5 linked regions of the Homo sapiens genome follow. The protein of the gene in region 1 purifies or fractionates together with the protein of each later gene. This does not show direct contact. Each region holds a gene or a part of one and is shown in the gene's direction. Other genes may lie near its edges. The genes, in order: TSPAN1, SNX13, MTCH2, CSGALNACT2 and TLCD2.

Evidence for each region.
Region 2: the proteins of TSPAN1 (region 1) and SNX13 purify together in Homo sapiens (affinity purification with mass spectrometry; one large-scale study listed by BioGRID and IntAct). This does not show direct contact.
Region 3: the proteins of TSPAN1 (region 1) and MTCH2 purify together in Homo sapiens (affinity purification with mass spectrometry; one large-scale study listed by BioGRID and IntAct). This does not show direct contact.
Region 4: the proteins of TSPAN1 (region 1) and CSGALNACT2 purify together in Homo sapiens (affinity purification with mass spectrometry; one large-scale study listed by BioGRID and IntAct). This does not show direct contact.
Region 5: the proteins of TSPAN1 (region 1) and TLCD2 purify together in Homo sapiens (affinity purification with mass spectrometry; one large-scale study listed by BioGRID and IntAct). This does not show direct contact.

The regions. Positions count from the first base shown.
Region 1 is NC_000001.11:46,180,685-46,185,101, forward strand, and holds part of TSPAN1 (tetraspanin-1), read left to right. Parts: intron 1-415; 5' UTR 416-423; coding exon 424-480; intron 481-3,506; coding exon 3,507-3,713; intron 3,714-3,909; coding exon 3,910-3,984; intron 3,985-4,100; coding exon 4,101-4,199; intron 4,200-4,275; coding exon 4,276-4,417. UniProt on the Homo sapiens protein: Structural component of specialized membrane microdomains known as tetraspanin-enriched microdomains (TERMs), which act as platforms for receptor clustering and signaling.
Region 2 is NC_000007.14:17,929,995-17,934,411, reverse strand, and holds part of SNX13 (sorting nexin-13), read left to right. Parts: intron 1-4,417. UniProt on the Homo sapiens protein: May be involved in several stages of intracellular trafficking. May play a role in endosome homeostasis. Acts as a GAP for Galphas.
Region 3 is NC_000011.10:47,632,515-47,636,931, reverse strand, and holds part of MTCH2 (mitochondrial carrier homolog 2), read left to right. Parts: intron 1-1,360; coding exon 1,361-1,387; intron 1,388-2,197; coding exon 2,198-2,260; intron 2,261-4,417. UniProt on the Homo sapiens protein: Protein insertase that mediates insertion of transmembrane proteins into the mitochondrial outer membrane. Catalyzes insertion of proteins with alpha-helical transmembrane regions, such as signal-anchored, tail-anchored and multi-pass membrane proteins.
Region 4 is NC_000010.11:43,155,213-43,159,629, forward strand, and holds part of CSGALNACT2 (chondroitin sulfate N-acetylgalactosaminyltransferase 2), read left to right. Parts: coding exon 1-598; intron 599-3,502; coding exon 3,503-3,719; intron 3,720-4,111; coding exon of another isoform or gene 4,112-4,136; exon of another isoform or gene 4,137-4,152; intron 4,153-4,417. UniProt on the Homo sapiens protein: Transfers 1,4-N-acetylgalactosamine (GalNAc) from UDP-GalNAc to the non-reducing end of glucuronic acid (GlcUA). Required for addition of the first GalNAc to the core tetrasaccharide linker and for elongation of chondroitin chains.
Region 5 is NC_000017.11:1,707,051-1,712,001, reverse strand, and holds the start of TLCD2 (TLC domain-containing protein 2), read left to right. Parts: upstream 1-1,624; 5' UTR 1,625-1,759; coding exon 1,760-1,935; intron 1,936-2,115; coding exon 2,116-2,198; intron 2,199-2,420; coding exon 2,421-2,503; intron 2,504-3,779; coding exon 3,780-4,232; 3' UTR 4,233-4,951. UniProt on the Homo sapiens protein: Regulates the composition and fluidity of the plasma membrane. Inhibits the incorporation of membrane-fluidizing phospholipids containing omega-3 long-chain polyunsaturated fatty acids (LCPUFA) and thereby promotes membrane rigidity.

The DNA.
Region 1 (4,417 bases):
CTGTGAAGTGATATCGATCTGGAAACAGGTCTGGGGAGCTGGAGGGGCTCTAGTGAGGGTTCTGGGAGGGTCTGGGGTTAGTGTGGGGGGGAGCACAGGATATACAGGTGCTAGGAAAGAGCATGGAGTGACCTGCAGTGTGGGAGTCAGGCTGGGTGTGCAGGTGGAGGAACCTGGGGTGTTAGGATCTCAGAGTGTCAGGTGCTGGTGGAGGTCCTGGGTAGTATAGAGGGGTAAGGGTGTTAGGATAGAAACTGGGAAAAGGTCTGTGTCAGACCAGGTACAGGAGAAGCTTGGTGAGATATGGGTTCAGGATCCTGGGGTCTGGCATATCTGGCTGAATATCTGAAGCCAGGGCCAGCCCAGGTGGGCCCAGGGGAAACAAGGCCCTAACTTGCACATGTCTACCTCCCAGGAGCCACCATGCAGTGCTTCAGCTTCATTAAGACCATGATGATCCTCTTCAATTTGCTCATCTTTGTAAGTACGGACATTGTGGACTCTTTGGGGCTCCCTATAGGAGCAGGTCACAAGCTGAGTAGAGACTAAGCTGGGGAATGGGAGACTGCTATGCCCAGGCTTCGTCCTGCATGTGTCCCCTTATGAGTGGGATGCAAAGGTCTCCCCAAATGCTGCTGATTCCTAGTCCCAGCAGCAGCCAGGCTGCCATACAGGTGCGTGTGTGAAAAAGGGGATGGAGAAGCTAGGGGCACCCCCTCTCTCCTACAAAGCTTTAGCCTAGGCTTCAGGCAGGGCAGAGTAAGCTACCAGGAATGATTCTCCACCCTTTATAGGCACTGGGGGCCCAGAAAATAGAAGGGCTCCACCCAAGTTTACCTACCACAGAAGGAAATTCAGTACAGAGGAAATTCTTCTGTATGACGGGGAGCTGAAAGGAGGGAGGGCCTACCTCTCATCAGAGCAACAGTCCTTATTCATTCGACAAACATTCATTGTCTAGGATACCATGATGGGTGCTGGGGTGGCAGGTAAGCAAAGCCTTTCTCTGCCCTGAAGGATCTCAGCTCCGATAAGCCAGATAGGCAGATAATAACAACACAGTGTGTTTGGGCTTAGGACGGAGGTTATGGGAGCCTGAACTCAGCCTGGTTGGAGAATACTTCCTGGAGGAAATAGCTGAAGCTGGGAAATTGCACTTGGTGGGGGAGTTATAAAGCATGCATAAAGGGCCAGAAGTAGTGAAACTTGATATCGTTCAGAAAACCAGAAACAGATTGCATAGGGCATGTTTGAGAAGCTGAGCCATGAGGCGTAAATCCTGGAGATGGTGGTGGAGATAGGGAGAAACGGACAAAGTGGACAAAGGACAAAGCTCTAGGATGATGGCTGAGGGGTAGAAGAAGGGGCAAGGGAGACAGAGGTCTTGGAGATGACGCCCATATCTCTGGCATGAGCAACCCAGATGGCAGGGGGTGGGGCCTGGTTTGTGGGAAGGGGTGTCCCACTAGCAGATGTGTACCCAGTGGAGGTGCAGCTCAGATTGGAGCTGGCCATGGGTATTTGAAAATCATGTGCGCACAGGTAGCCACTGAAGCCATGGGAGTGGATGAGAACACTTGGAAAGTGAACTCTGGGAAACCCAATTTATTAGGGATAAGCAAAAAAAAAAAAAGCCACTGTGAAGGAGATGGAGAAGGAGCAGTGGGAGGGGGAGAGGAAAACAAGGAGAGTAGTACACTAACCACATTAGAGTAGGTTAGTGTAAGTGAAAGTGAGGAAGTGGGCCAGGTGCAGTAGCTCACAACTGTAATCCCAGCACTCTGGGAAGCTGAGGCGGGCAGATTAGTTGAGCTCAGGAGTTCGAGACCAGCCTGGCCAATATGGTGAAACCCCGTCTCTACTAAAAATACAAAAATTAGCTGGATGTGGTGGCGCATGCCTGTAATCCCAGCTACTTGGGAGGCTGAGGAAGGACAATCACTTGAACCCAGGAGGCGGAGGTTGCAGTGAGCCAAGATCACACCACTGCACTCCAGCCTGGGCGACAGAGTTTATGTATGTATTGATTAGTTTAGAAGCGTGGGTAGACTCTCTAGTTCTGATGTGGTCTGTGCCTTGGGCTTCCTTCGGCTGCAGGGAACTTGTGTTTTTGTTGTTGTTGTTGTTGTTGTTTGTTTCTTTGAGACAGGATCTTGCTTTGTCACCAAAGCTGGAGTGCAGTGGCATGATCATGGCTTACTGCAGCGTCAACCTCCTGGGCTCAAGGGATTCCCCTACCTCACTCAGCCTCCTGAGTATCTAGGACTACAGGAGTGTGCCACCATGCTCAGCTAATTAAAAAAAATTTTTTTTGTAGAGGCGGTCTCACTATATTGCCCAGGCTGGTCTCGAACTCCTGGACTTAAGTGATTCTCCCACCTCTGCCTCCCAAAGTGCGGGGATTACAGGCATGAGCCACTGTGCCAGTCCTGAACTAGTCTTTATCCCTGTATCTGGAGGAAGCAATAGGATTCCAGGGATTTGGACAGGAGAGGCTCTGCCCTGAGAGGGTTAAAGGCAAATCCGGTTTGATTTCTGGCCTCTGTTACCCAGACCTTGCCAGGCTGGGCAAAGCAGGATAGGGCAGACCTCCAGCTCCATGAAATTTGACCCTGCAGGCTAGAAGTCCAGCTTTCTGTCCTTGGGCAAACATGCCTGGAATCCAGCCACAATCTGCCACCTCACTTCCCGTTCTAGCCTCAGTTTTTATAGCTGGCAAGTGAGGACTAGTCACCAAGGTGGTGTCAGGCTGATTCATCCACTGAAGCCCTGGGCCGGGAGGCTTTCCTCTAAGATCTGTGGGAACTGCGCAGGGCCCTCCTCAATCTAGGCCTCAGAATTCCCCCTGAGGTTTGGAGTTGAGCTAGACAGCCTTTAAGAGAAGCTCTGGCTGTATTCCCACTGGTACCTCACTTTCCTCTTGTGAGGCAAGGAGGTCTTGTCTACATGAGGGGCGGGCCTGAAGTTGGATTCTGGAGGGGAGCCAAATGGGGCCTCAGGTGGGTGAACCTTCTCAACCTCCTCCCTCTCCAAGGTTGCCAGCAGGTGGAACCTCAGCCTCGCCTCCATTACTATGGTGACTATTGAGCCTGTTCTGCTACCACCCCCGTCTCCACCTATCAGAGGACAGAGGTGTTCTAGGCACCCATAGCCCAGAAAGGAAATAGGAGGCTGGGCCCTCACCTGCCTGTTTTCAATCCTAGCTATGTGGCAGGACCCTGGCAGCAGTGAGGGAAAGTCTTGCCCCTCTGCCCACCCTGAGGATATTTCTAGAACCCCTGATCTCCTTTATATCTGCCCAGGTGTGCAGCCTGGTCCTAGCTATGCATATCCCAGCTCCCATTTTTCTGGCTCTAGAGGATGTTTCCCTCCTTACAGGATGAGGTTTTAGACTCCCTAGCCAATAAAGAGGGAAGTTTCTCGGCTCCCATCCTTCTTACTCAGCTGTGTGGTAGTAAGCTACTTGCCAGCACTGTTTAAGGCCTGCCTGACCTCTCTCTCCCCAGCTGTGTGGTGCAGCCCTGTTGGCAGTGGGCATCTGGGTGTCAATCGATGGGGCATCCTTTCTGAAGATCTTCGGGCCACTGTCGTCCAGTGCCATGCAGTTTGTCAACGTGGGCTACTTCCTCATCGCAGCCGGCGTTGTGGTCTTTGCTCTTGGTTTCCTGGGCTGCTATGGTGCTAAGACTGAGAGCAAGTGTGCCCTCGTGACGGTGTGTGAAACCCAGCTCCACAGGCTGATGACCAAGAGTCCCCTCGCCCTTGACACCAGGCCCTGGGATTCCCAAACCCTGCTTTGGACCCCCCTAGGCTCAGGCTTCTGTCTCACTTTTCCGGGGGGGGGATTAGGGCAAGGAGGGCATGAGGGACTGTCTCTCCCTAAAACCCAGACCCCTGTTCCCCACTCAGTTCTTCTTCATCCTCCTCCTCATCTTCATTGCTGAGGTTGCAGCTGCTGTGGTCGCCTTGGTGTACACCACAATGGTGAGACACTGGGATGGAGGAAGGGAAGAAGATTGGGCAAAACCCTGGGAGTGGGCTGTGGCCTGTGAATGGCCACCTTCTGTACCAGCCCCTAAACACTGGCCTGCCTCACCCAGGCTGAGCACTTCCTGACGTTGCTGGTAGTGCCTGCCATCAAGAAAGATTATGGTTCCCAGGAAGACTTCACTCAAGTGTGGAACACCACCATGAAAGGGGTAAGGTTGGCTGGGGGAGGTTTTAGGGTGGAGAGAAAGAAGCAAGGCCCCACCTCCACCCTCATCTTGTCTCCAGCTCAAGTGCTGTGGCTTCACCAACTATACGGATTTTGAGGACTCACCCTACTTCAAAGAGAACAGTGCCTTTCCCCCATTCTGTTGCAATGACAACGTCACCAACACAGCCAATGAAACCTGCACCAAGCAAAAGGCTCACG
Region 2 (4,417 bases), on another chromosome or scaffold:
AGGTATTCCTTAATATAGTCAAGTTGACATCTAAAATTATCCACCACAATGACTTTACAGCTTTCCCTGAATGAGGTTCTCAGATTATGGCTTTTTAAACTGTGCTTTGAAATTTTGTGGTTTCATAGACCATGAAGTGCCTCCTCAATTGATTGTAATCTGGAATTGACTTTCTATTTCAGAGTCAGGTTTAATTTTGGTGTCACAAAGCCTTAAATATGTGTAAGGAGAGGAAACGTTGAAGCAAGCAGATAGCTCTTAAACTGTTTAACGTTTTAAAAGTATTTGGAATTAAATGAATAAATAGGCTGGAGTGATAGTGATAAATACTGTGTCTATCAACAAATTATACATATGGCAACACACAAACCTGTATGTTAAGCACTATAAGGGATGAGTCTCAACTTTATCACTTATTTATGATGGGATTTTGGGGAACTAGTTTGAACTTTCTAAGCTTTTAATTTCCTTCTGTGTAAAATTGGGGTAATAGCACCTTTCTTGCTGTTCTTACATTGTTATGAAGATCATATAAGATGATGGAGGGTATAACTTTGTAAATTGCCAGTCATTATAGAAATAGTGGTAGTACATCGGGTTTTTTTTTTTTTCTGTATATTCCTTGTACTAATGAATGTAAATCCTAGGCTCCATGTAGTTTTATTGCTCACTATTTTCTTGGTGGATAGGTGGGTGGGTCCTGAGGGGAAATTAGGAGGGGAGTCTCCTGGCTAGTGGTGCAGTTACAGGGGAGACAGGGAATAGACTAAAAGAAGTGAAAGAGAAAAAAGGGGATAGTTTCTTGTGTGGTTGGTAAACCGATTTCAATGAATGCCTTAAAGCAAGTTCTCTCTTTTTTTTTTTTTTCTGAGACAGAGTCTCGCTCTGTTGCCCAGGCTGGAGTGCAGTGGCGCGATCTCAGCTCACTGCAAGCTCTGTCTCACGGGTTCAAGCGATTCTTTTGCCTCAGCCTCCTGACTAGCTGGGACTACAGGCGCGTGCCAGCACGCCTGGCTAATTTTTTGTGTTTTTAGTAGAGACGGGGTTTCACCAGGTTAGCCACGATGGTCTCCATCTCCTGACGTCATGTTCCGCCCGCCTCGGCCTCCCAAAGTGCTGGGATTACAGGCATGAGCCACTGGGCCCGGCCGCCTTAAAGCAAAGTTCTAAAAAATGTTTTGAAAAAGATGATTTATTTGAGGGTTACCAGTCATTTGTCTGTACATATTCCCAAACATTTGTGGGAAGAAAAATCTTTTATTTTTAATCAGACTTGGTAAATCCTTGAAAAGCTGTTATTAAGGATAATGTTTATAAGGCTTTTGTTATAACTCGTGCTGGAGATTGATTTTTATGGATTGATTTCTTCACCAAACAAGAGTATGCCTACTTTGTACTAGGCACATGCTGATAAGTTCTAGTGTTGAAGTGGTGAGTCAGTTGGGAAACCTGTCCTCAGAAATCACTATCAGCGCTAAATTTAGCATTGTACCACTTAGGCCATCAAAGTGGGAGCCTTGAGGTCTTTTGTCAGAATAAAATGATACCACTAAAGGGTGAAAAGTTAAGAGGGGAAAAGATTGGAGAATATAATTAAAAGATAACTGTGACTTGGGTTAGCTTTACAACTCCTGGTAAATCTACTAGTTTGGATGAGACAGCAGCTCTGAAATGGATTTCTTGCAATTGAAGAGTCAACCTGGTGAAAGTAGTACTTGATCCTGCTGTTCCCACCTCCATGTGTTATGTATATATTTATTTGCTTGTTACATGTTTTTCCCTAATAGAGTAAACTCCTGAGGATGGGCCTCATAGGTGTACTCCCAGAGCCTAGAATAGAGCTTGATACTTAGTAGGCCTCACTAAATATCTGTTGAATGAATGAATGTTGAATATTTCCTCAAGAAAAATTAAGATTAAAGTGAAAAATTACGGAGATGAAATTGTCAGTGATAAATTTAAACCATCATATTAATTACCCTTAAAGGATTGGTTACTATCTGTTCATTAGACATTTTATATAGTAAGTACATTGTGGTTAAATATTGTGTTTAAGAGCAATGGGACAAAAAAAAGTTGAACCTGAGGCTTTTAGTTAGGAATGAAATTCTGTCTTAATTTTTCCTACAGGGAAAAATCTGATTAGGTTGTTACTTTGATATAACCAATTATAAATGCAAGAGGGACTTGGATTTTGTTTTGTATCTCTTACTACTTGATATTATGATTTCATTAATATTACTTAAAGTTTAATTCCTAAACTAGATACATTTAAAGAAAGCTTTGTCTGTAATAGTACAATAATGCTGATTTTCATGGCACTTTGTTGACTGTTTCAATTTGTATGACCTTTGATGCTATCTTGAAAGTTTGTAAGTATCAGTAAAAATTTGGCCGTGGTTTCAAAGTTGGAAATTTTGGGGGTCCATTTTTAAGGAGGGCAGCTGCTACCACAGTCTCTTAACTAAAATGCGTCTCTGTTCAATGTTGGAGACAGAGTACTGTTATGTCGTTTGCCCATCTGTAATTCCACTGTATATTCAGAAATAATATATACCAGAAAAGTTCAATAAGATGATTCTGCTCTGTTCCACTGTTCAAGTAGAATAATGGTCTGTAAATATACTTATGAGAGGATCATGTATATTAACTGGAATAATTCACCATTGTTTACTTATTGCACTGTTTTCTCTGATTTCCTAAGGGATCTTTTTATTCTGATGCATCTGTGAAGACCCTAAGGTGAATCCAGCTTTGCTCTTGACCTTAGCTGTGCATTGTTGGAGAATCCTTGGTTCTTATTCCATTTAAACCTGAATTGGTATTATACCTGAAATTTGGGGGCTATTTTTAGCCTGACTGGCTTAGCATAGGAAAGAGTTGTGATTCTTTGTTTTGTGATTTCTTTTATTTTCGAGCTAGAGTTGTGGAGAATGGCCTTTGGATTCATTGTCCTGTGAAGTTTGGAAATTATAAAACTGAAGTTGTACAATTTTAGTGGAAGAGTTAAATGTGAAATAAAATTTCACCGTATTTCTGTTATTACATAAATATTAGGAAATAATGTTCTGACTTTAAGATGTGATATTGTGTTATCCAGTGTTTCTCCAAGCTGTAATATTGTATTTTGCAATTTGTTCTCTTCCAGAGTTTGAGATAGCTTGTTTTCTCAGAATTTTTCTCAGCTGAGAAACACAACTGGTGTTTAATTCAGACTGCAACTATTAATATAATCAGCTATTTTACATGTGGTATTAATTACTAACATCTGATCTTTTTCTTGTATGGTACCCAACTGCTCAACACTTAAAGTATTGCAATAGTGTTAATCCTGGTGGGAGTCAGGAGAGTAAAATAAATGGGCTACAATGACAGTCTCCAGCCTTTTTGGCACCAAGGGACCGGTTTTGTGGAAGACAGTTTTTCCACGGACGGCTGTTGGGGGGAATGGTTTCGGGATGAAACTGTTCCACCTTAGATCATCAGGCATGAGAGTCTCATAAGGAATATGCAACCTAGATCCTTGCATGTGCACTTCACAATAGGGGTAGTGCTCCTATGAGAATCTAATGTCCCAGCTGATCTGACAGGAGGCTGAGCTCAGGTGGAAAAGCCCACTCCCCGCCACTAACCCCTGCTGCTCACCTCCTTCTGTGCGGCCTGATTCCTAATGGGCCATGGACCTGTAATGCTCTGTGGCCCAGGGGTTGAAGGGCAGAACACCACAAAGTTACAGGAAAAGAAACTGAAATAATATACTTTCCAAATAGTGAGTATTGGTTGCATAAAGGTTTAGAAAAACCAAGTAGACTTGAGAGTATTTTATGATGCATTAAAAATGTATTTTATGAATCTGAAATTCCAGAAATTAATAACAGCAGCTCAGAATATTCAATCATATAATAGGCACTAACACAAAATTTATGTGATGATGAAAGATTATCTTTATACTAGGATTCAGTGTTAATCATCTTTTTTATATATGTATATATATCTCCTCTAGTCCCAAACCAAATATTCCTAATTTCTGAATAAAAATGTATACTTTTGGTTAAGAGTGATGGCTGGTGTCAGATTATTTGGATTTGAATCTAAGTTTTCTCGATTCCGAGCATTTTGACCTTGGAAAGGTTGCTAACGTTTCAGAGCCTCAGTTTTCTTATATGTGTGACTTATAAATGAATGGTACTGACCTCATAGGGTTGTTGCAAGTATTAAGTGAAGTAACACATGTACTGTGCAGTGTTTCCTACAGTAACAATAAATCTTTATTCTTATTTCTTTATTCTTATTCTTTATTCTTTATTCTTATTCTTATTCTTTATTCTTTTTCTTATTCTTTATTCTTATTTCCTCTGATGTAAATAGCAAGTGGTTTATTTTCAAAACTTAGAATTTAATATGTTTGAAGTTGTTT
Region 3 (4,417 bases), on another chromosome or scaffold:
GTTCTTATTTTGTAATTATTTCTTTAAATTTATTATTATTTTTTTAGAGACAAAGTCTCACTATGTTGCCCAGTCTGGTCTTGAATTCCTGGGCTCAAGCAGTCCTCCCTCTTCGGCCTTCCAAAGTGTTGGGATTACAGGCGTGAGTCACTGCGCATGTTCCCTTTTCGTTTTTTGGGTTTTTTTGTTGTTTTTTTTTGAGACAGAGTTTCACTCTTGTTGCCCAGGCTGGAGTGCAATGGCATGGTCTCGGCTCACTGCAGCTTCCACCTACCGGGTTCAAGCAATTCTCCTGCCCCAGCTTCCCACGTAGCTGGGATTACAGGCACCTACCACCACGCCCAGCTAATTTTTGTATTTTTAGTAGAGAGGGGGTTTCGCCATGTCAGCCAGGCTGTTCTCAAACTCCTGACGTCAGGTGATCCGCCTGCCTCAGCCACGCAAAGTGCTGGGATTACAGGCGTGAGGCACCATGCCCGGCCCCTTTTCTTTTTTTCTGAGATGGAGTCTTGCTCTGTTGCCCAGGCTGGAGTGCAGTGATGTGATCTCAGCTCACTGCAGTCTTTACCCCCCGGGTTCAAGCAATTCTCCTGTCTCAGCTTCCCAAGTAGCTGGGATTACAGGCGCCCGCCACCAAGCCCAGCTAATTTTTGTACTTTTAGTAGAGATGGAGTTTCACCACGTAGGCCAGGCTGGTCTCAAATTCCTAACCTCAGGTGATCCACCTGCCTTGGCCTCCCAAAGTGCTGAGATTATAGGCGTGAGCTACCGCACCCAGCCTTCCCTTTTCTTTTTTTTTTTCTTGAGACGGACTCTTGCTCTGTCACCTGGGCTGCAGTGCAGTGGCGTGATCTTGGCTCACTGCAACCTCTGCCTCCTGGGTTCAAGTGATTCTCCTGCCCCAGCCTCCCTAAGAGCTGGGATTAAAAGCGTGCGCCCCAATGCTCCGCTAATTTTTGTATTTTTAGTAGAGATGGGGTTTCACCATGTTGGCCAGGCTAGACTTGAACTCCTGACCTCAGGTGATCTGCCCACCTCGGCCTCCTAAAGTGCTGGGATTACAGGCATGAGCAACCACACCTGTCCCCTTTTCTTTTTTCAAAGAAGAGTTTTCATGACCATTTGCTTTTCTTCCAACTGACCAATATGTTAAACTTAGCAACAAGTTTATCTTGGAGATCCATATTTCCAGTTGATTAATGAGTAGAAGTTAACTGAAGATTTGCAGCTTAAAAAAAAAAACAAAAACTTTAAAAAAAACTTCAGCTAATTTACTTTCTGTCAGTAGAGTTTTCATTTTATGTCTTCTTTCACATGACACTGTAATAACCCTAATCATCCTTTTTCTTTTTTTCTATAGCATTACCAGGAGAGTGACAAGGGTGAGGTATGTTGGAGCTGATTTCTAAGCATGAGGGCCTTTCCCTTGCAAGTTGTTACTGCTTTTGGGGCCTCTTTTGGAGAAAAGCCAAGTAGTCAGTCTCCTATTCATCTCAGTGAGTGTTGTCCTATGGGGTGGCCACCAGTTTGGACAGTTCTGTTTGAAACCATCAGGATGGCTGGGCATGGTGGCTCATGCCTGTAATCCTAGCAGTTTCGGAGGCCAAGGTGGGAGGATCACTTGCATCTAAGAGTTTGAGACCAGCCTGGGCAACATAGACCCCTTCTCTACAGAAAATCAAAGATTAGCGGGGCCTGGTGGCACATACCTCTGTATCTCAGCTACATGGGAGGTTGAGGTGAGAGGATCACTTGAGTCCAGGACGTCAAGACTGCAGTGATCCATGATCACATCACTGCACTCCGCGTGAGTGACAGAGCGAGACCCTATCTCAAAAGAAATAAAAACCGTCAAGATCGGCCGCCCATGGTGGCTCATGCCTGTAATCCCAGCACTTTGGGAGGCCGAGGCAGGTGGAGATCACGAGGTCAGGAAATCGAGACCATCCTGGCTAACACGGTGAAACCCCGTCTCTACTAAAAATACAAAAATTAGCAGGGCGTGGTGGCGAGCACCTGTAATCCTAGCTACTTGGGAGGCTGAGGCAGGAGAAGCACTTGTACCCAGGCGGTGGAGCTTGCAGTGAGCCGAGATTGTGCCACTGCACTCCAGCCTGGGCGACAGAGCGAGACTCTGTCTCAAAAAAAAAAAAAAAAAAAAATCAAGATCTCTATTTTCTTTGATTTTGATTTCCAGGAGTTAGGACCTGGAAATGTACAGAAAGAAGTCTCATCTTCCTTTGACCACGTTATCAAGGAGGTAAGAGATGAATTACATCCTGTGCTGTTTGCCCAGATCAAACTGTGGTGTTGCAACTATGGAATCAGAATCATCAGGCCTGTGTGTTCAGTGTCTGTTCCCAAATGAAATTAAACCTTCAAATTAATTTGGGCTTTACTACATGTATAACATTAAAAAGAGAGAGGATCAGTGCTTGCTGTTCAGAATAGATGCATTTCAAGAAAACTCATTTTGCCCACACATTCCGTCTTTAGAATACTGAAAGTCTTCTAATAGTGTTGAAAACCTCAGGAATAAAAGTGTTAAAATAGGCCAGGTGTGGTGGCTCACGCCTGTAATCCCAGCACTTTGGGAGGCCAAGGCAGGAAGATCACTTGACCCCAGGAGTTAGAGACCAGCCTATGCAACATAGTGAGACTTCCTCTCTACAAAAAAAATAGAAAAATTAGCTAGGTGTGTGGTGGCACATATCTGTAGTCCCAGGTACTCGAGAGGCTGCGGTGAGAAGATGACTTAAGCCCAGGAAGTTGAGGCTGCAGTGAGCTATGATTGTGCCACCATACTCCAGCCTGTGTGATAGAGCAAGACCTTGTCTTTAGAAAAAAGTATTAAAATAGCGACCAGGCCCTTTGTATGTTGGATAGTATCTATGCAGAAAGGCTCTTTTGACATTTTTCTGACTCTGAAAAGTTCCTCATCACCCATTTCCCACCCCCATATGCTGCCATAGGTGTTTCTGTGCCTGGCTTTCAGAACTATTCTCTTATTACTTAAGTCTTCACATTGTCTTAATTGTCATTAATGAAGTCACAATTATCCAGGAAATGCAGCCATCCAAAATACATATTCCAAAGGCTGGGCGCAGTGGCTCATGCCTGTAATCCCAGCACTTTGAGAGGCCGAGGCGGGCGGATCACCTGAGGTTGGGAGTTGGAGACCAGCCTGACCAACATGGAGAAACCCCGTCTCTACTAAAAATACAAAAATTAGCCAGGCATGGTGGCGCATGTCTGTAATCCCAGCTACTTGGGGGGCTGAGGCAGGAGAATGGCTTGAACCCGGGAGGCAGAGGTTGTAATGAGCCAAGATTGCACCATTGCACTCTAGCCTGGGCCACAGGAGTGAGACTCCATCTCAAGAAAAAAAAAAAAAAAAAAAAAAAATATATATATATATATATATATTCCAAAACAAACATTACTAAAGGTCTGGAAACCAGATAAATTAGCTCTATTTTCTGTAAATTTTCATGAAATTAGTTTGCTTAAAAGCAGGGATACGGCCGGGCGTGGTGGCTTACACCTGTAATCCCAACACCTTGGGAGGCCGAGGCGGGCAGATCACGAAGTCAGGAGATTGAGACCACCCTGGCTAACACGGTGAAACCCCGTCTCTACGAAAAATACAAAAAAATTAGCTGGGCATGGTGGCAGGCGCCTGTAGTCCCAGCTACTCGGGAGGCTGAGGCAAGAGCATGGCGTGAACCTGGGAGGTGGAGCTTGCAGTGAGCCAAGACTGCGCCACTGCACTCCAGCCTGGGAGACAGCGAGACTCCCTCTCAAAAAAAAAAAAAAAGCAGGGATACATGTATTACTATGCAATTAGTATTTTCCTTAGTTTGCCCATCCAGTCCCATAGGATCTTATGCCCTTGGAGAAGGGGTGAGGGCTGTCTTAAAACTCAGTGACTAGGCCGGGTGTGGTGGCTCACACCTATAATCCCAGCACTTTGGGAGGCTGAGGCGGGCAGATCACGAGGTCAGGCATTCAAAACCAGCTTGGCCAACATGGCGAAATCCCATCTCTACTAAAAATACAAAAAAAATTAACTGGGCATGGTGGTGTGTGCCTGTAATCCCAGCTACTCAGGAGGCTGAGGCGGGAGAATCACTTGAACCTGGGAGGTGGAGGTTGCAGCAAGCTGAGATCGCACCACTGCACTCCAGCCCGGGCAACAGAGCAAGACTCTGTCTCAAAAAAAAAGAAAAGAAAAAACTCAGTGACCATAAAGATACTGTTTAAATGCAAAAGCCGGCCAGGCACGGTGGCTCATGCCTGTAATCCCAGCAGTTTGGGAGGCCGAGGCGGGCGGATCATGAGGTCAGGAGATCGAGACCATCCTGGCTAACACGGTGAAACCGTCTCTACTAAAAAATACAAAGAAAAAAAATTAGCC
Region 4 (4,417 bases), on another chromosome or scaffold:
CTCTGCAGTTTGGTATTATTTATGTACCTCCTGGAATGTGCCCCCCAGACTGATGGAAATGCATCTCTTCCTGGTGTTGTTGGGGAAAATTATGGTAAAGAGTATTATCAAGCCCTCCTACAGGAACAAGAAGAACATTATCAGACCAGGGCAACCAGTCTGAAACGCCAAATTGCCCAACTAAAACAAGAATTACAAGAAATGAGTGAGAAGATGCGGTCACTGCAAGAAAGAAGGAATGTAGGGGCTAATGGCATAGGCTATCAGAGCAACAAAGAGCAAGCACCTAGTGATCTTTTAGAGTTTCTTCATTCCCAAATTGACAAAGCTGAAGTTAGCATAGGGGCCAAACTACCCAGTGAGTATGGGGTCATTCCCTTTGAAAGTTTTACCTTAATGAAAGTATTTCAATTGGAAATGGGTCTCACTCGCCATCCTGAAGAAAAGCCAGTTAGAAAAGACAAACGAGATGAATTGGTGGAAGTTATTGAAGCGGGCTTGGAGGTCATTAATAATCCTGATGAAGATGATGAACAAGAAGATGAGGAGGGTCCCCTTGGAGAGAAACTGATATTTAATGAAAATGACTTCGTAGAAGGTAATGTGAAAAATATGTTGGTCAATATTATGTTAGTAAGACAAATGCTAGTATTGTATGCTGGTATTGTATTGTAGTATTGTACTGTAGACAAATGCTAGTATTGTATTGTAGACAAATGTTAGTAATATAAGTCAGTCATTATCCACAGTATTAAAACACTGAAAGTTTTTGCACTTCATTGCACCAAGAATTTTAAGTGGCCTTCTGGAAAAAGGTATGAGATCATAATAAAAATGGAGAATAAGGACTAGGGAAATAGAATAAAACAGCTCTTGTTGCATGTGTATGATTTATATTCCTCACTTACCTGATCTTGGTGTTCTTTTTTATGTTTTTAAAAAATGTGTAAACTAAAACTCAAAACTTGAAAACCATTTGATAAAGGAAAGAAAAAATTAGTAGACTCTTAGCTATTTTTCGTATTGGAGGAAGGAGAAGCTCATGTCTGAACAAGGGGTTATACATAGTTTAAAAAGCACATTTGGCATTTGGAAAAGTAAGGAAATACCTGTTTTCCTAATACATATTTCAGAAAGGGTATGGAATTTTTATGTATCAAGATGGGATGTGACTCAGAGGTTGAAGAACACTGCTATAAAATTTAAGATATTGATTGATATTAACAGTAATAATTCTAGATCCCTACCCATCTCCTTTACACTCACTGCTAGACATTTAATTGCTGACTTAAACCATTTTAAAAATAAATGTTTCTTGAAAGTTCTCTTTGCTTGATTCTATAAACTGTGTTATCACAGTGGTCCCCAGCCTTTTTGGCACCAGGGACTGGTTTCATGGGTGACAATTTTTCCATGGGATGGTGAGGATGGTTTTGGGATGAAACTGTTCCACCTCAGATCATCTGGCATTAGTTAGATTCTCATAAAGAGCGTGCAGTGTAGATTCCTTGCATGTGCAGTTCACAACAGAGTTTGCTCTACTTTGAGAATCCAGTGCAGCCACTGATCCGACAGGAGGCGGAGCTCAGGCGGTAATGCTTGCCAGGCTCCCATCACTCACCTCTTGCTGTGCCGCCTAGTTCCCAACAAACAGGCCACGGACCAGTAGCGGTCTGTGGCCTGGGGGTTAGGGACCCCTCGTATAGCACATGTAGACTTTTTGACTCCAAATCATCATGGCCATCACTTGCTGCACTGTAGCATTATTATAATACACTGAGGCCCTTGGAGGCCATCAGGGAGGGCATTATGCTTTGCAGTGGCATTGCAGCTGCCTTTCCTTGTGGCCTCCTCTTTTTTCTGCTGTCACTTCCTGCCATTTTTGATGGATTATTTTTCTCAAAACTCTTCTGATTTTTCTGCAAGCTCAGCTTTTTGTCTTCTCACTGTATGTTTGTAGCTTATGGCAGAATTGGAAGCTGCGGAGGAAATAAGATAACTAAGTAACATGTGTAAAATGTCCTCACATCAGCTCTACCTAAAAAGAAAGGGAGCTGTGCCAGTTTTATATTCTGCAGCTCCTGCTTTTGTCTTATAACTCTCCTTGGATTCTGATACTTCAGGATTTTTCTCTAAATGGAACATATTCTGTTCCTCACTTTTCCTCTACTGTGCCACTGTCTGCCCACTGCAGGGAGAATAATTACTAATAATTAGTAATGACAACTAATTCCTATCCCTCTTCTAAACTTTAGCTCAGATATCACTTCTTCTGAGAAGTCATCTGCAACCTCAGGTCTAAGACAGCAGTACTTCTGTGTGCTCTTGTCACCTGTACATTCATACTGCTTGTCACAGTATGTGGCATTGCCCATTTCCTGGTTTGTGCTTCCTACTAAAGTGTAAGCCTCAGGAGGGTTGGGACCAAGTCTATTTTATTCACCATTTTATACCCAGATATTTACTGAGTGACTCACACATCTGTAGGTCTAACCTTCTTCTCTCTCCTGAGCGCCATACTTAAAAATCAGATTGCCACTGGGCGCAGTGGCTCACTCCTGTAATCCCAGCACTTTGGGAGGCCGAGGTGGGCAGATTATGAGGTCAAGAGATCAAGACCATCCTGGCCAACATAGTGAAACCCCGTCTCTACTAAAAATACAAAAATTAGCTGGGCGTGGTGACACACGCCTGTAGTCCCAGCTACTTGGGAGGCTGAGGCAGAAGAATTGCTTGAACCCGGGAGATGGAGGTTGCAGTGAGCCAAGATTGCACCACTGCACTCCAGCCTGGTGACAGAGTGAGACTCCGTCTAAAAAAAAAAAAAAAAAAAAAAATCAGATTGCCTCGTAGATGCGCATGCTTTTCTCTCAAAGGCATCTCAAATCACTGTGTTTAAATCTGTACCAATTTTTCTTTGACTTCACTCTAGTCAGTGATTTTATATGTATGTATGTATACACACATATATATATACAGATATATATATATATCACATAGCACTATATTGTTATTATTTGTCTATTTTTCTGTCTCCTTCACTAGACTGGCCCTGTCCTCAAAATTGAGACCATGTGGCACTCTTTGTATCACATAACTGACACGAAGGCACTCGATTTCTTTTAGTTGACCTAAACCAATAGAAATTTTGGCTCTTGGGTCTAGATTTTAATATTGCTAGAAGTAATTTCTTTATTTATCATGATTACCATATTGATAGGCTCTAGTATTTTTAAAAAGTCGTATGTAAAAAGGAACAATTGTCATTTGTAGTATATTTTATAGATTGAATAAAATAACAGAACAGTGAACTTTTTTTTTAACCTTTTCTTTTAAGCGAGTAATTGTTACTGTGCAGTGGGGATAAGTATTTTCACAAATAGGTAAAAATCCTGCAGGTCTAGTTTAATACCCTTTATGTTTAAGTGAGTAAAATCTGTCTTCCCATTGAATTTGTAAACTTTGACATGGAGACGTCTTTGTTCCTAACTCTTTCCTTTAGGTTATTATCGCACTGAGAGAGATAAGGGCACACAGTATGAACTCTTTTTTAAGAAAGCAGACCTTACGGAATATAGACATGTGACCCTCTTCCGCCCTTTTGGACCTCTCATGAAAGTGAAGAGTGAGATGATTGACATCACTAGATCAATTATTAATATCATTGTGCCACTTGCTGAAAGAACTGAAGCATTTGTACAATTTATGCAGAACTTCAGGTAACTGTCAGGGCTTAATGATTAAGCTACATTCTCCTAAAAAAAATCACGTTTTACTCAGATTTCCTTAATTTATCTTCACCGATTATAATTACTTAGAATAATTTTACAGGCTTTAGGGGAACTTTATTTTTTTATATTCTCTCTTTTTTTAAAGCATGTGTAGTATATTGTGTTATAGACAATTTGAACTATGAAATAAATTAAGAGTGACACCTATTAGAAACTAAATTTGATGGCCTTGATAATTGTTTTGAATTCATTTTAAGACAAGTTGAATTTTTAAAAAATCAACTTTACTAAGGAATAATTTACATGCAGTAAAATCCACATATTTTAAGGATATAGGTATCATGACTCTTTTTTTATTTTTATTTTTTTTTTTGAGACAGGGTCTCACTCTATCACCCAGGCTAGAATGCAGTGGAGTGAGCACAGTTCACTGCAGCCTCAACCTCCTGGGCTCAAGTGATCCTCCTGCCTCAACCTCCCAAGTAGCTGGGACCACAGGTGCATGCCATCTTTTTTATTCTTTGTAGAGAGAAGGTCTTGCCATGTTGTCCAGGCTGGAATTTAATGTCTTTTGACAAACGTATACACTCACGAACCACCACCCCAATTAAGATACAGAATACTTGTGTCTCACAAGAAAATCCCCTTGAGAATGATTTGAGTTTTTTAATTGAAATACATTTAGA
Region 5 (4,951 bases), on another chromosome or scaffold:
CTACGAATTCTATCTTTGGGAATTTATCCTAAGAAAATACTTAAGGATTTAGTTAGTGATAAGATGTTCATCCCAGCATTGCAATGGAGAAAAATGGGAAGCAATGGTTTGGTTGGGAATTTATTCCTTTTCTGCTGTAACGAAAGTTTGCAATAGGGGATTGCTTAAGTAAATTATTGTATCTCCATCCAGATGGTGGAGTACCGCGCAGACATTAAAAGTCATGTAAAAGAACATCTGACTGAAAGAAAAATGCTCCTTGAATATTAAAAGGTTGTAAAAATAGTGCATGTTATGTGATTTCAATTTTGTTTTTTAAAATATGGGTGTATGCTTGTATACGTAGAGCAGATAAAAAAGACGGAAGGCATACTAAAAAATGTTGAGTGGTTATCTTTGTATGGTGGAACAAAGTCACTGTAATTTTCATCTTTGGTTTTTCTGTAATTTCCAAATTTTCCACATTTTGTATTTCATATAATATAATTTAAGAGATCAGTGTTATTATTTAAACCTTTGGAGAGGTGGGGGTAGAAGAATGAAGGGAAGACCTCAGCTTTTTGGTGAGAAGGTTTGGTTGGGGCACCTCTTGGTTTATGAACTTAATTCTTTGAAGTAGCTGGAATCCTCCCTCTCAGCCTGCAGGAAACAGCTCTGACTTGCTGACTGTCTGCCAGCTGAAGAGGTGGAGTGGAGTAAGGTGGAAGGAAAGCAGTGCAACCTGGGGCTCTTCAGGTGGTGAGGGGCTGGGGGAGGCTCTTCCTCTTAAGGCTGGAGGGTTCTGGAATCCTAACCGCCCTGCTACTAAGAGCAGGACAGGTCTGTTTTTCTCTTCTGACTCTGTCCCAGCCTTGAAGGGACCCTGTGTTACCTTTCCTTGCCCTCGGATTGAAGATATTCTACCCACCCAACGGGTACCAAGCCCTTGGGGAAGGAAGTGCTTTTCAAGACTGGGGGCCAGCGATTCCCTTTTGCGTCCTCTTCCTAATGAGGCTCCTCCGTAGGGCCGAAAACAATGCTGGGGGTCGGGGCGGGGCCCAGTGGGTCGCTTCTCCAACATGGGGTCTCCTGGGGGTTGTGGGGGAGGGGGAGCAGAACTGCTGGAATTACAGGTTTGCCGGGATATGGTAAAGGCGTGGAAACCTCAGGAGGCCGAAGGGGTGGCTCCAAGAAAGTGGGGCACCCCGTCCCCACCACGGACGCGGGGAGGGAAGTGGGGGCGGCGGCCAGGCTCGGGCAGGTACGAGTGGGCTGCGCTAGCCTCTGCCTTGCAGGGTGTGGCGGTGGGTGGTGATGACGCTCAGCAGGTGAAAGTCGCGGGAGCCGGGAAGAGGTCAAGGTTCGTGGGTGGGGCCCGGGAGTGTCAGTTGAGGTTAGACTGGAGACCCAGGTCTGCAACTCCAGCGCTTCAGGACGCTTGGAGCTGGGGAGGACCCCTATTGGCGAACATCCCGGAGGCCCCCCGAGCTCCAGGGCATGGTCTACTGCCCGGAGCCCCCGAACCGCTCCCCCGGCTGGAGCAAGACGCAATCGGTGGCCAAGGCTCCGGGGGCGGCGGCCCCGCGGCTGCTCCAATCACCGCCCAGGCGAGGGACTGGGCGTGGACGAACGGGGAAAAGTTCCTGCTGATCCCAAAGGCGCGGCGGGGAGGGGAGCCGGGGCCCCAGCCCTGCCGGGAAACGGGTTCCCAGTCCCGGCCGAGAGCGCGGGCGCCGAGGGGACCGACCCGGACTCCCCGCAACCCCCCAACCGCCAGGCCATGGCGCCCACGGGGCTCCTGGTGGCCGGCGCCTCCTTCCTCGCGTTCCGGGGGCTGCACTGGGGGTTGCGGCGGCTGCCCACGCCGGAATCGGCCGCTCGGGACCGCTGGCAGTGGTGGAACCTCTGCGTCTCCCTGGCGCACAGCCTGCTCTCGGGGACCGGGGCGCTGCTCGGGTGCGGGCTTGGGGGCTCGAGGCGCACGGGGCGAGGGCGAGGGGTGGGAGGCTGAGGCCGGGAGACCCGCCGGGCGTCTCCAGAGCTGAGACTGGGGTGGGGGTGCGCACAGGGAGACTGCGGCCGGGGCCTCGAGAGGCTGACCATGCCCCCCCCCATGTCCCCACCCCATGCCCCCAGCCTGTCACTGTACCCTCAGATGGCCGCCGACCCCATCCATGGCCACCCGCGCTGGGCTCTGGTGCTGGTGGCTGTGTCTGTGGGTGAGTCTGCAGGGAAGGCTGGGCCGGTGGTGGGGATGGGGCGGGGGGCAGGTTCTGCTGTCCTTCCAGGTCCATTCCCCGCCCCCATGGGGGTTAAACGTTCCTGAAGGCTTTACCAAGGGAAAACTAAGAACTGGGAGAGGGGCGGGGCGGGGGGGCTGGAAATCCTCTCTAAGCTGCCCGGGCTCTGGAGCAGCCTAACCCCTACCCCCATGCCCACAGGTTACTTCCTGGCAGACGGAGCTGACCTGCTGTGGAACCAGACCTTGGGCAAGACCTGGGATCTTCTCTGTCATCATTTGGTGGTGAGACTCTGAGGGCAGAAGCCAGACAGGAAGGGAGGAGGGGAGCCCTGTCCAGCCCGAGGTTCCCAGTCTCTCCTCATTCTTTTTTTTTTTTTTTTTTTTTTTTTTTGAGACGGAGTCTCACTCTGTCACCCAGGCTGGGGTCCAGTGGTTCGGCCTCTGTTCACTGCAACCTTCGCCTCCTGGGTTCAAGCAATTCTCCTGCCTCAGCCTCCCACGTAGCTGGGATTACAGGCACCCGCCACCACGCCCAAGTAATTTTTTGTATTTTTAGTAAAGACGGGGTTTCTCCATGTTGGCCAGGCTGGTCTCGAACTTCTGACCTCAGGTGATCCGCCCACTTCAGCCTTCCAAAGTGCTGGGATTACAAGCATGAGCCACCGCCCCCGGCCCTCTCTTCATTTTGCTGTCCTATAATTTCCCACAGTCTCTGCCCCCAGCTGGTGCTTGGCTCCCAGTCTTAGGCTGAGTTAGGGGGAGGAGGTGGCTGCTGGCCACAGCTGGGGAGTCCAGATACCCACCAGGCCAGGGCACCTACCATGCCAGGGCACTCACCATACAAGGGCACCCACCATGCCAGGGCACCCACCATGTGAGCCTAAGGAGTTTGGGTGCCCCCACAGGTGTCCAGCTGATCACAGAAATGTGGAATATGGAGCTTTTCTGAGAAGGGGGTGTCCTGGTATAGGGTGTGGGTATGGGGCATGAAAGCCCTAGGCCAGGCACGGTGGCTTATGCCTATAATCCCAGCACACTGGGAGGCCGAGGCGGGTGGATCACGAGGTCAGGAGATCGAGACCATCCTGACTAACAGTGAAACCCCGTCTCTACTAAAAATACAAAAATTACCTGGGTGTGGTGGCGCGCACCGGTAGTCCCAGCTACTCTGGAAGCTGAGGCAGGAGAATTGCTTGAACCCAGGAGGCAGAGGTTGCAGTGAGCCAAGATCACACCACTGCACTCCAGCCTGGTGGCAGAGTGAGAGTCTGTCTCGAAAAAAAAAAAAAAAAAAAAAAAAAGCAAGCAAGCCCAGGAATGGGAGGTTAAGGGGGTATTAGGGGGTGAGACAGCCCCTCCCTGGGCCAAGCCTGGTTCCATCTATGGAAGGGTTGTTTCAAGGCTGCTCAGGGCCCCAGGATAAAGGTAAAAGCATAAAGGTCAGGTGTTTGGGGAGCCCCACAGACTGCGTGGAAGCCTCTTTCTTCAGGCCTGGGTTATTGGGACATGATGGCTGGCAGGTCATGGGGTTCCTCTGACCTGTGACCCTGGCTCCCAGGTGGTGAGCTGCCTCAGCACCGCTGTTCTGTCTGGCCACTACGTGGGCTTCTCCATGGTGTCTCTGCTCCTGGAACTGAACTCTGCCTGCTTGCACCTGCGGAAGCTGCTGTTGCTTTCTCGCCAGGCCCCATCCCTGGCCTTCAGCGTGACCAGCTGGGCCTCCTTGGCCACCTTGGCCCTCTTCCGCCTGGTCCCGCTGGGGTGGATGAGTCTGTGGCTGTTCCGGCAGCACCACCAGGTTCCTCTTGCTCTGGTCACCCTGGGTGGAATTGGGCTGGTCACTGTGGGCATCATGAGCATCATATTGGGGATCCGTATTCTGGTCAATGATGTCCTACAGTCTCGACCCCATCCACCCAGCCCTGGCCATGAGAAAACCAGGGGGACCAGGACACGTCGTGACAATGGACCTGTCACCAGCAACAGTTCGACTCTCAGCCTGAAAGACTAGAGAGAAGCCATGGGCCCCTCGCTGGGGGAGGTGGGGCCAGGACAAGGAGATGAGGGTCTTCCATGCACAGTCCCCCATCAGGGTGAGGGCCAGACTTGCTCATCAGAATCTCAGTTTCTCTTCCAGCTAACTCACATCCCTTCCCCTTCCTCGGATCTAAGAAGAAATGCTGATGTTGGATGGGTGGGAACCTGGGTTTCTGTTCACTGAAATCCGTCATCAGATGAGCATCCTTTCCAGCAAATAAACTCAAGAGGTACAGCTAGAGCTATCAGTAAAGGGTGGCAGGAGGCATGCAGCTGGAAGAAACTGCCAGTGGAGACAGAAGCTCTTTGCTTTAACCCAGGGACAGATGGGGGAAGGTGAAGTCCCACTAGGATCAGAGAGATCTGGTATGGGGCGGGTGGGGACAGAGAGAAAAGAGATCTCACCTATAACCAAATTCTGGCAGTGGGAGGAAGGTAGAGGAGGTGCTATCTGTAGCAGCAGAGATGGACGTGATAGTTGCCAAGAGACAGAACCTGGGCCACAGCAATTGCTGCTGATGTTTCTGGTTCTCAAAGCCACACTCCTGTTTTTCTTTTTCTTTTTCTTTTTTTTTATGAGACGGAATCTTACTCTGTCACCCAGGCTGGAGTGTAGTGGCACGATTTCGGCTCACTGCAACCTCAGCCTCCTGGGTTCAAGTGATTGTCCTGCCTTAGCCTCCCGAGTAGCTG